2 separate regions of the Homo sapiens genome follow, and region 1 is linked to region 2. Evidence: fine-mapped QTL for protein levels in blood plasma. A gene starts in region 2. The other region holds a variant in brackets. All regions are shown on one strand. Distances are from middle to middle.

Evidence for each region. A credible set is the group of variants that fine-mapping cannot tell apart. PIP is the posterior inclusion probability: the model's chance that the variant is causal. Protein levels are from antibody-based Olink assays in UK Biobank. Linkage for the fine-mapping came from a reference panel and not from the study's own genotypes, which makes the PIPs less certain.
Region 1: its variant is the best candidate, but not a certain one, in a credible set for the plasma level of the ADA protein (UK Biobank, PIP 0.78).

Annotation. Positions count from the first base shown.
Region 1 is chr20:44,669,764-44,675,127 of GRCh38, forward strand. It overlaps LINC01260 (long intergenic non-protein coding RNA 1260), which reads right to left and starts at 1,976. Exons shown (of 5, transcript NR_034104.1): 1 at 1,876-1,976. RefSeq lists enhancers at 715-1,216, 1,217-1,716. The variant G/A (reference allele first, on the strand shown) is at 2,263.
Region 2 is chr20:44,648,385-44,653,748 of GRCh38, forward strand. ADA (adenosine deaminase) reads right to left here and starts at 3,315. Exons shown (of 12, transcript NM_000022.4): 1 at 3,191-3,315. The coding sequence starts at 3,223. RefSeq lists enhancers at 1-174, 2,764-2,873, 3,104-4,087 and a silencer at 3,124-3,513.

The DNA of each region.
Region 1 (5,364 bases), 21 kb after region 2:
ATAGTTTTTTTTTTGTTCTTTTTTTTTTTTTTTTTTGAGATGGAGTCTCGTTCTGTCACCTAGGCTGGAGTGCAGTGGCGTGATCTCGGCTCACTGTGACCTCCACCTCCTGGATTCAAGTGATTCTCCTGCCTCAGCCTCCTGAGTGGCTGGGATTATTGGCATGCGCCTCCATGCCAGGCTAATTTTTGTATTTTGAGTAGAGAAAAGGTTTTGCCATGTTAACCAGGCTAGTCTTGAACTCCTGATCTCAGGGTGATCCGCCTGCCTTGGCCTTCCAAAGTGCTGGGATTGCAAGCGGGAGCCACCGCACCCTGCCTCATATAGTATTAATAAGAGATAGCAAAAGATTTTTTTGTTTACCTTTTGAGTAAACTGCTGCTAAAAAAAAAAAAAAGGAGAAAAGAAACGGGGGAGAGGGAGAGACATTCTGTTGGTCTCAAGTTGTCTTTTTCAGGTCTTTTGTGTCAGGCCTCTGAGCCCAAGCTAAGCCGTCATATCCCCTGTGACCTGCATGTATACATCCAGATGGCCTGAAGCAACTGAAGATCCACAAAAGAAGTGAAAATAGCCTTAACTGATGACCTTTCACCATTGTGATTTGTTTCTGCCCCACCCTAACTGATCAATGTACTTTATAATCTCCCCCCACTTAAGAAAGTTCTTTGTAATCTCCCCCACCCTTAAGAAAGTTCTTTGTAATTCTCCCCACCCTTGAGAATGTACTTTGTGAGATCCACCCGCTGCCCACAAAACATTGCTCCTAACTCCACTGCCTATCCCAAAACCTGTAAGAACTAATGATAATCCCACCACCCTTTGCTGACTCTCTTTTCGGACTCAGCCCGCCTGCATCCAGGTGAAATAAACAGCCTTGTTGCTCACACAAAGCCTGTTTGGTGGTCTCTTCACACAGATGCGTGTGACATTTGGTGCTGAAGACCCGGGTCAGAGGGACTCCTTCGGGAGACCAGTCCCCTGTCCTCACCCTCACTCCGTGAAGAGATCCACTTACGACCTCGGGTCCTCAGATCAACCAGCCCAAGGAACATCTCACCAATTTCAAATTGGGTAAGTGGTCTTTTCACTCTCTTCTCCAGCCTCTCTTGCTACCCTTCAATCTCTCTGTCCTTCCAATTCCAGTTCTTTTTCCTCTCCAGTAGAGACAAAGGAGACACATTTTATCCGTGAACCCAAAACTCCAGGGCCGGTCACAGACTCAGGAAGACAGTCTTCCCTTGCCATTTAATCACTGCGGGGACGCCTGCCTGATTATTCACCCACATTCCATTGGTGTCCGATCACCGCAGGGACGCCTGCTTTGGTCATTCACCCACATTCCCTTGGTGGCAAGTCAATTGCGGGGACGCCTGCTTTGGCTGCTCACCCACATTGCAGCCCAGGGCTGCTCCCCACCCCCTTCTCCATATCTCTACCCTTCTCTTTAAACTTGCCTCCTTCACTATGGGCAAACTTCCACCCTCCATTCCTCCTTCTTCTCCCTTAGCCTATGTTCTCAAGAACTTAAAACCTCTTCAACTCTCACCTGACCTAAAATCTAAGCATCTTATTTTCTTCTGCAACACCACTTGGCCCCAATACAAACTAACAATGGTTCTAAATGGCCAGAAAATGGCACTTTTCATTTCTCCGTCCTACAAGACCTAGATAATTTTTGTTGAAAAATGGGCAAATGGTCTGAGGTGTCTTACGTCCAGGCATTTTTCACACTTCGTTCCCTCCCTAGTCTCTGTTCCCAATGCGACTCGTCCCAAATCCTCCTTCTTTCCCTCCCACCTGTCCCTTCAGTCCCAACCCCAAGCGTCGCTGAGTCTTGTGAATCTTCCTTTTCTACTGAACCATCTGACGTCTCACCTTCTTCCCAGACTGCTCCTCCTCAGCTCGCTCCCCACCAGGCTGAATCAGCCTCCAACTCTTCTTCAGCCTCTGCTCCCACATCCTATAACCCTTCTATTACCCGCCCTCCCCACACCCAGTCTGGTTTTCAGTTTCGTTCTGCGGCTAGCTCTCCCCCACCTGCCCAACAATTTCCTCTTAGAGAGGTGGCTGGAGCTGAAGGCATAGTCAGGGTACATGTGCCTTTTTCTCTATCAGACCTTTCCCAAATCAGCCAGCATTTAGGCTCTTTCTCATCAGACCCCACTAAATATATACAGGAATCCCGATATCTAACTCTGTCCTACAGTTTAACCTGGAGTGACTGAAATGTCATCCTGACTTCTACCCTCTCCCCAGATGAAC[G/A]GGAAAGAGTTTTTTCTCTAGCCCAATCTCACGCTGATAACCGCCGGCTTCATGAACCTGACCTCCAGGAAGGCAGTAGAGCAGTTCCCCGAGAGGACCCCCAATGGAACTATCAGGCAGATTCCCCAGGTATGGCTAGGCGAGATTACATGGTTTCCTGCCTAGTTGAAGGGCTTAAAAAGGCAGCTTACAAAGCTGTTAATTATGACAAACTTAGAGAAACTACCCAAGGTAAAGACGAAAACCCAGCTCAGTTCATGGCCCGCTCGGCAGCAACCCTTACACACTTTACCGCCCTAGACCCAGAGGGGCCAGAAGGCCGCCTTATTCTTAATATGCATTTTATCACCCAGCTCCTGACATTAGAAAAAAGCTTTAAAAATTGGAATCCGGCCCTCAAACCCCACAACACGAATTAATCAACCTCCCCTTCAAAGTGTACAATAATACAGAGGAGGTAGCCAGGCAGCAACGCATTTCTGAGTTACAGCTGCTCGCCTCCGCTGTAAGACAGCCCACAACCACGTCTCCAGCATACAAGAACTTCAGAACATCCAAGCCACAGCTCCCAGGGGCTCCTTCAAAACATCCTCGTGGACCTTGCTTCAAATGCTAAAAGCCTGGCCACTGGGCCTCAGAATGCCCGCAGCCCGGGATTCCTCCTAAGCCGTGCCCTGTCTGTGCGGGCCCCCGCTGGAGGTCGGACTGTCCGACTCACATCACTGCCACTCCTAAAGCCCCTGGAGCCCAAACCCTATGTTCCTTGGCCGACTCCTTCCCAGATCTCCTCGGCTTAGCAGCTGAAGACTGACGTAGCCCGATCGCCTCAGAAGCCTCCTGGACCATCACAGACGCTGAGCTTCGGGTAACTCTTAAAGTGGAGGGTAAGTCCATCCCGTTTAATCGATATGGGGGCTACCCACTCCACATTATCTTCTTTTCAAGGGCCTGTTTCCCTCGCCCCCATAACTGTTGTGGGTATTGATGGCCAAGCTTCAAAACCCCTTAAAACTCCCCCACTCTGGTGCCAACTTGGACAACGTTCTTTTATGCACTCTTTTTCAGTTATCCCCACCTGCCCAGCTTCCTTATTAGGCTGAGACATTTTAACCAAATTATCTGCTTCCCTGATTATTCCTGTACTACAGCCACATCTCATTGCCCCCTTCTTCCCAACCCAAAGCCTCCTTTGGGTCTTCCTCTCATATCCCCCGACCTTAACCCACAAATATGGGACACCTCCACTCCCTCCCTGGCAACCAATCACATGCCCATTACTATCCCATTAAAACCTAATCACGCTTACCCCACTCAATGCCAGTATCACATCCCACAACAGGCTTTAAGGGGATTAAATCCTGTTATCACTTGCCTGCTACAGCATGGGCTTCTAAAACCTATAAACTCTCCTTACAATTCTCCCATTTTACCTGTTCAAAAACCGGACAAGTCTTACAGGTTAGTTCAGGATCTGTGCCTTATCAACCAAATTGTTTTGCCTATCCACCCTGTGGTGCCCAACCCGTACGCTCTTTTGTCCTCAATATCTTCCTCCACAACTCACTATTCCATTCTTGATCTTTAAAATGCTTTTTTTCACTATTCTCCTACACCCCTTGTCCCAGCCTCTCTTTGCTTTTACCTGGACCGATCCTGACACCCATCAGTCCCAGCAGCTTACCTGGGCTGTACTGCCGCAAGGCTTCAGGGCCAGCCCTCATTACTTCAGCCAAGCTCTTTCTTATGATTTACTTTCTTTCCACCCCTCTGCTTCTTGCCTTATTCAATATATTGATGACCTTCTACTTTGTAGCCCCTCCTTTGAATCTTCTCAACAAGACACCCTCCTGCTCCTTCAACATTTATTCTCCAAGGGATATTGGGTATCCCTGTCCAAAGCTCAAATTTCTTCTCCATCCATTACCTACCTCAGCATAATTCTTCATAACAACACATGCGCTCTCCCTGCGGATCGTGTCCGACTGATCTCTCAAACCCCAGGCCCTTCTACAAAACAACAACTCCTTTACTTCCTGGGCGTGGTTGGATACTTTTGTCTTTGGATACCTGGTTTTGCCATCCTAACAAAACCATTGTATAAACTCACAAAAGGAAACCTAGCTGACTCCATAGATTCTCAATCCTTTCCCCACTCCTCTTTCTGTTCCTTGAAGACAGTTTTAGAGACTGCTCCCACACTAGCTCTCCCTGGCTCATCTCAACCCTTTTCATTACACGCAGCCGAAGTGTAGGGCTGTGCAGTTGGAATTCGTACACAAGGACTGGGACCGCACCCTATAGGCTTTTTGTCCAAACAACTTGACCTTACTGTTTTAGGCTGGCTATCATGTCTCCATGCGGTGGCCGCTGCTGCCCTAATACTTTTGGAGGCCCTCAAAATCACAAACTATGCTCAACTCACTCTCTACAGTTCTTATAACTTCCAAAATCTATTTTCTTCCTCACACCTGACACATATACTGTCTGCTCCCCGGCTCCTTCAGCTGTACTCACTCTTTGTTGAGTCTCCCACAGTTACCATTGTTCCTGGCCCGGACTTCAATCCAGCCTCCCACATTATTCCTGATACCACACGTGACCCCCATGACTGTATCTCTATGATACACCTGACATTCACTCTATTTCCCCACATTTCCTTCTTTCCTGTTCCTCACCCTGATCACACCTGGTATATTGATGGCAGTTCCACTAGGCCTAATCGCCACACACCAGCAAAGGCAGGCTATGCTATAGTATCTTCCACATCTATCATTGAGGCTACCACTCTGCCCACCTCCACTACCTCTCAGCAAGCTGAACTCATTGCCTTAACTCGAGCCCTCACTCTTGCAAAGGAACTACGCACTACGCATCAATATTTATACTGACTCTAAATATGCCTTCCATATCCTGCACCACCATGGTGTTAAATGGGCTGAAAGAGGTTTCCTCACTACGCAAGGGTCCTCCATCATTATTGCCTCTTTAATAAAAACTCTTCTCAAGGCCGCTTTACTTCCAAAGGAAACTGGAGTCATACACTGCAAGGGCCACCAAAAGGCATCAGATCCCATCGTTCAGGGCAACGCTTATGCTGATAAG
Region 2 (5,364 bases):
CCAACCTGGAGATCCAGTCGTTATCTATGAGGAACATCTGAGCCCCACCCCATTCCCACGGGACACTGACCATACAGGGGTATAGGGACCGAGGCCCTTTGTTTTGGGTTAAATGAAGGTTACTAGGTGGAGATGGTTGGGAGAAGGTGTTAAATGAAAATGCTACATAAACTGCATGATTTGCAAGTGGTTGCGGTTCTTCTGCTCAGTCTGCCGCCACTGGACTCTCTTCCCTGTGTCTAAGCCCCCAGTAAAACCCCGTATCTTGTTTGCTACCTCTTCCAAAGAAGGTAGCCTCTTGAACCTGGTGCTATATCCATTGGAGTCAATAGGGGTCCCGCACAACAGAAGGCAGCTGCCTAGGGCCTTGCTAAGCAAAGTGTGTTCCTGGATCGTTGACATTAGCATTTCCTGGGAGCTGGTCAGCAGTGCAGCATCGCAGGCCCCAACCCGACCCACACAGAATCACAGTGTGAACATTAAAAGTCAGGCCACTTGAGTGCAGTTTGAAAAGCGCTGCCCTGCTCTGCTTTCTTCTAGCTGACCAGGTCCCAGGCCTCAGCTGGTGGCAGGTATGAGAAGCTGAAGGACACAGCAAAGGCTCCTGTCTCAGGAGGTTTGCACCTGGGGCACTGGCACCTCTATCCCCAAAGGCTTCTGCAGAGGTAGTTTAGGAAAGATGGTTAGAGGCATGGGATTTCGAAGCCAGCCTCCCTTGGACTCAAACCCCAGATTGGACATTTCCTAGCTGTGTGATCTTGGGCCTAGTTAACCTCTCTGTGCCTGGATTAAATAAAAAATGCAGATAATGTGTTTAGAACGGTGCCTGGCACAGAAACATCAACACTCCATTAGCTGCAGCTAGTAATGCTAATAATTATAACTGTCATCTGTCCCTCCCACAAGAGGGCAGGGAGCTGGCTCTGGTCACAGTGGCTCTGAGATTCACACTCCTTCCCACTTCTCCTGCCAGCTCACACAAGTTCCTCCTCACAATCATACAAGATTTGTCACGCCTCAAACACATGGCAGGTAACATTCTACCTTCACTCTCAAGCATCACCTTGTGGCCTTGGGACTCAGGACACGGGACACCCACATAAGCAGCTGATGTTCCATCCTCCAGGTGTGGACACTGAGGTCCCAATAGGGAAAATGATCTGCCAGCTTGAATCAGATGGGAGGACTGAGCAAGGCCAAAAAATGGGGATAATAATATGAGCCCCTCCCTTGATGGGCTGTTACAGAAGAACTGCAAGGATCCAATGGGTGTCTGCAACAAGTGCTCTAGAAGTGGGCCCTGCTGTTCTCTCCATAACTCCCAACATGTTCGCAATCAAGGAGCCTTTTTTTTTTTTTTTTTTTTTTTGAGACAGCGTCTCACTCTGTCACCCAGGCTGGAGTGCAATGGCGAGATCTCGGCTCACTGCAAGCTCCACCTCCTGGGTTTATGCCATTCTCCTGCCTCAGCCTTCTGCGTAGCTGGGACTACAGGCGCCCGCCACCATGCCCAGCTAATTTTTTATATTTTTAGTAGAAATGGGGTTTTGCCATGTTGGCCAGGCTGGTCTCGAACTCCTGGCCTCATGATCCACCCACCTTTGCCTCCCAAAGTGCTGGGATTATAGGCGTGAGCCACTGCACCCCGCCAATCAAAGAGCTTTGCTATTGCCATAGGATTCACATCAGGGTACAGTGGGTCCCCAGCCCAAGGGCAGAGGGAGCCCAGAGCATTTAATAAAAAGACTGCAAAGGGGAGGCGCCAATCATGGGCCCCAGCTCCAGTAAGACGTGAAGGAGGCAGGGGTGGGGGTAGGAGGGCTTGTACAGCACCTCAGTGCTTCCAGCTTCTGACGGGGAGTAGCTGAGCATTTTCCCTGGGCTGGGGGCATCAGTAGTGGGGGCCAGGCCTCACCCTCCTCAGAAGGTAGGTGGGCTCTCCACAGCCTGTCTCCCTCACTGACACATGCACACTCACTGGATTCTCACCGGCACTTTTGTGATAGCTGTCATCATCATTCACACCTATTTCTTTTCTTTTCTTTTTCTTCTCTTTTTTTTGAGACAGGGTCTCGCTCTGTCTCCCAGGCTGAAGTGCAGTGGCACCATCACACCTCACTGCAGCCTCAACCTCCTGGGCTCAAGCGATCCTCCCGCCTCAGCCTCCTGAGTAGCTGGGACTACGGGAGTGCACCACCACACACACTTCCCCTAACTTTTTTTATTTTTTGGAGAGACGGGGTCTAGTTTTGTTGTCCAGGCTAGTCTCAAACTCCTGGACTCAAATGATCCTCCCGCCTCAGCCTCACAAAGTGCTGGGATTACAGGCGTGAGCCAACCTCCTGGGCCACTCACACCTATTTCTTAGAAGGGTAAGTTGAGGCTGACTGCAGCTGACTCCTTCCCCAACCACTCTCACACCCTACTGGCTGACTCACCCTGCTTGGCAGACTCCTGGGCCCCTCCTCTCGGACTCTGCGACAGGCCAAGGGGGTCCAGACCCTCCCTGACCCCAACAGTCCCAAGACGCCACAGCTGGTGGGCGGAGAAACAAGGGGATTCTCCCCTGGGGCCAGTGGCCATGGCTTGGCCTCGAGTGAACCCTGCTAGGGCCCCAAACCCAGGGCCTACCTAGCTCCTGTTCTTCCCGCGCGGGGGAAGGGGGGTGCTCTGCTCCCCTCCCTCCCCTTTCTGGCAGGGCTCACGGTTCTTCCCCGGGGCGCATCCACAAACCTGAGCTCCTTGGCGCTCACCACCATAACGCTGGCGTACAAAGCTGCTTCCATTCACTGAGCACTCAGTAGGCGCCGGGCACAGCACTAGGTGCCTATCCGGCGTAGACATCGGGCCTGATCATACAGCTGAGCTTCAGAGACCTCAAGTCCCTGCCCAGGCCCACACAGCGCTCAGCGGTGCTAGGATGCCCACTTGACAGACAGCGAAACTGAGACCCAGAGGGGTCAAGTCAGGGGCAGAAGCAGACTCTGGAGGCCTCCGGGTTCTGGACCTTCTCTGCCCCATTGTCCCTGATTAGCCCGCAAGCAAGCCACGGCCTAAGCCGAAGGAAGAACTCGCCTGCAGGAGCCCCCGTTCGTTCCCAGGGTTTGGACGCCCCGGGCTGGGCCCCGCTAAGCCCCTCGGGCCGCCCAGGCGCCGGACCCCCGTCCCCGGAGCCCCCGCGCGCGCTCACTTTGGGCTTGTCGAAGGCGGGCGTCTGGGCCATGGTGCCCTCGTGCGCCCCGGCGCTGCTCCCTCCGCCGCCGCTCGGTGGGTCTCTGCCGGCTCGGTGGCCGCTCGGCTTTCCCTGGGGCCAGCGGTGGCCGCGGCCGGCCACGCTCTTCTTAACGGGCCGGGCCCCGCCTCCCGCCCCGCCCGCCGCCGTTCCCGGGGCCCGCCCTCTCGCCGGAGCCCCCGCCCCGCCCGCCGGCCTGGATCGCGCATTTCCTGGAATTCTGGACCCGGCGTCCTCGCCCGCCGACCCGAAAACTACGGCCCCGCGGCGCCCGACCGGACCCACCTGTGGGCGCGCGCTCCAGCCGCCTCGCTGGGCGCTGCCTTCCCCCCGGCTCCTCCAGCAACTTTCAAGCGTCCCCCTGCAGTCTGGGCGCTGCTGTGCGCCAGGCCCAAGCTAGAAGCGGGGACCCCGGGAGCATCGCAAGCCTCGAGCGGCGTGCCTTCCACCGGATAGACGGACGCTCGTCGCAGAAACACACACCATAATTGTATAGTTAAGGAACTTTCGAGGGGGGCCAGCCGTGGCCTGCAGAACCTGCAGGAGTTCATCAGGGGTGGGTGGGGGTGGAGAGGACATTCTACGTGAGAGACTCCAGGGAGCTGGGAGTGAAAGGAGGCGAGGAAGGCTGGAGCTCGGAGGGAGGGAGAACACAGACAGTCCCCTCCTGGGCATTCACCTTTAAGAAACCCGCCCAGGCGCAGCCAGAGACCTGTGCAGAATGTTCACACCAGCGCTATTCCGAATAACAGGAACATTGGAAACACCCTCAAATGCCCCTCCACGGGCGAGTGGGCAAATAAACCGGAATATTCACACCATGAAACGTTAGACAGCAGTGAAACGGAATGAACTTCAGCCAGACAACAACAGAAACAATGTCTCAGAAACAATGTTGAGTGAAAAAAACTAAGTTGCGGAAAACTGCATACAATGGTGCAACTTTTAGAATGTGTAAAAGCAAAACCAAAAGTATGTATGTTTAGACACATGCATCGGTGGAAAAAATGTAAAGCAAGGGAAAGATGAGCATAGATACGAGAAGAGTGGTTATCTCAGGTGAAAGGGAAGGAGCCGGGAGGAGGTAAGGACGGAGGGAAATAACACGCGGGTACAGGTTATTTATTTATTTATTTATTTATTTATTTATTTATTTATTTATTTACTGAGACGGAGTTTCGCTCTTTCGCGGAGGCTGCAGTGAAGTGGCGCGATCTGGGCTCACTGCAACCTCTGCCCCTCTGGCCCGCCTCCTCCCCACCGCTCCCCCGCACCCCCAGCGTTTCAAGCGATTTTCCTGTCTCAGCCTCCCGAGTAGCTGGGATTATAGGCGCCCACAACCACGCCTGGCTAATTTTTGTTTTTTGTTTTTTTGTTTTTGTTTTTGTTTTTTTGAGATGGACTCTTGCTCTGTCGCCCAGGCTGGAGTGCAGTGGCGAAATCTCGGCTCACTGCAACCTCCACCTCCTGGATTTTAAGCAGTTCTCGGCCTCAGCGTCCCGAGTAGCTGGGATTACAGGCGCGTGGCACCGTGCCCTGCTAAGTTTTGGATTTGTAGTAGAGACGGGGTTTCACCATGTTGGCCAGGCTGGTCTCGAACACCTGACCTCACATGATCCACCCACCTCGGCTTCCCAAGGCGTGATTACAGGCATGAGCCACCACGCCTGGCCACACACAGGTTATTGATAATGTTCCAGTACTGGGGTGGATGGTAGCTTCATTTCATTTCATCATAAATAAATTAACAAACCCATAAACAAGGGGGAAAGAGAGAGTGGGAGAGTGGAGAGCAAGGGGCTAGAAGGTCTGATGGGAGCTGAATCCTGCCAGGGATGTGGGACCCAGCGATGGTGTGGGATTCCTAGGAAGTCAGTGGAGTGTTTTAAGTGGAGGCGAGACAAAATCACCCTTTTATTTGGAAAAAATATTCTCCAGCTACTGAAAGTGTGATCCAGGGATCATCAGCACCCACATCACCTGGGAGCTGACTACAAATGCAGACTTTCAGACCCCATCCCAGACCTACTGAAGTAGAATCTGTATTTTATACAAACAGGACCCCCAGGTGGTTCGCACCCACAGGGCACTTTGAGAAGCCTGGGCTCCCTGCTGTGAGGGGAGGGCATTAC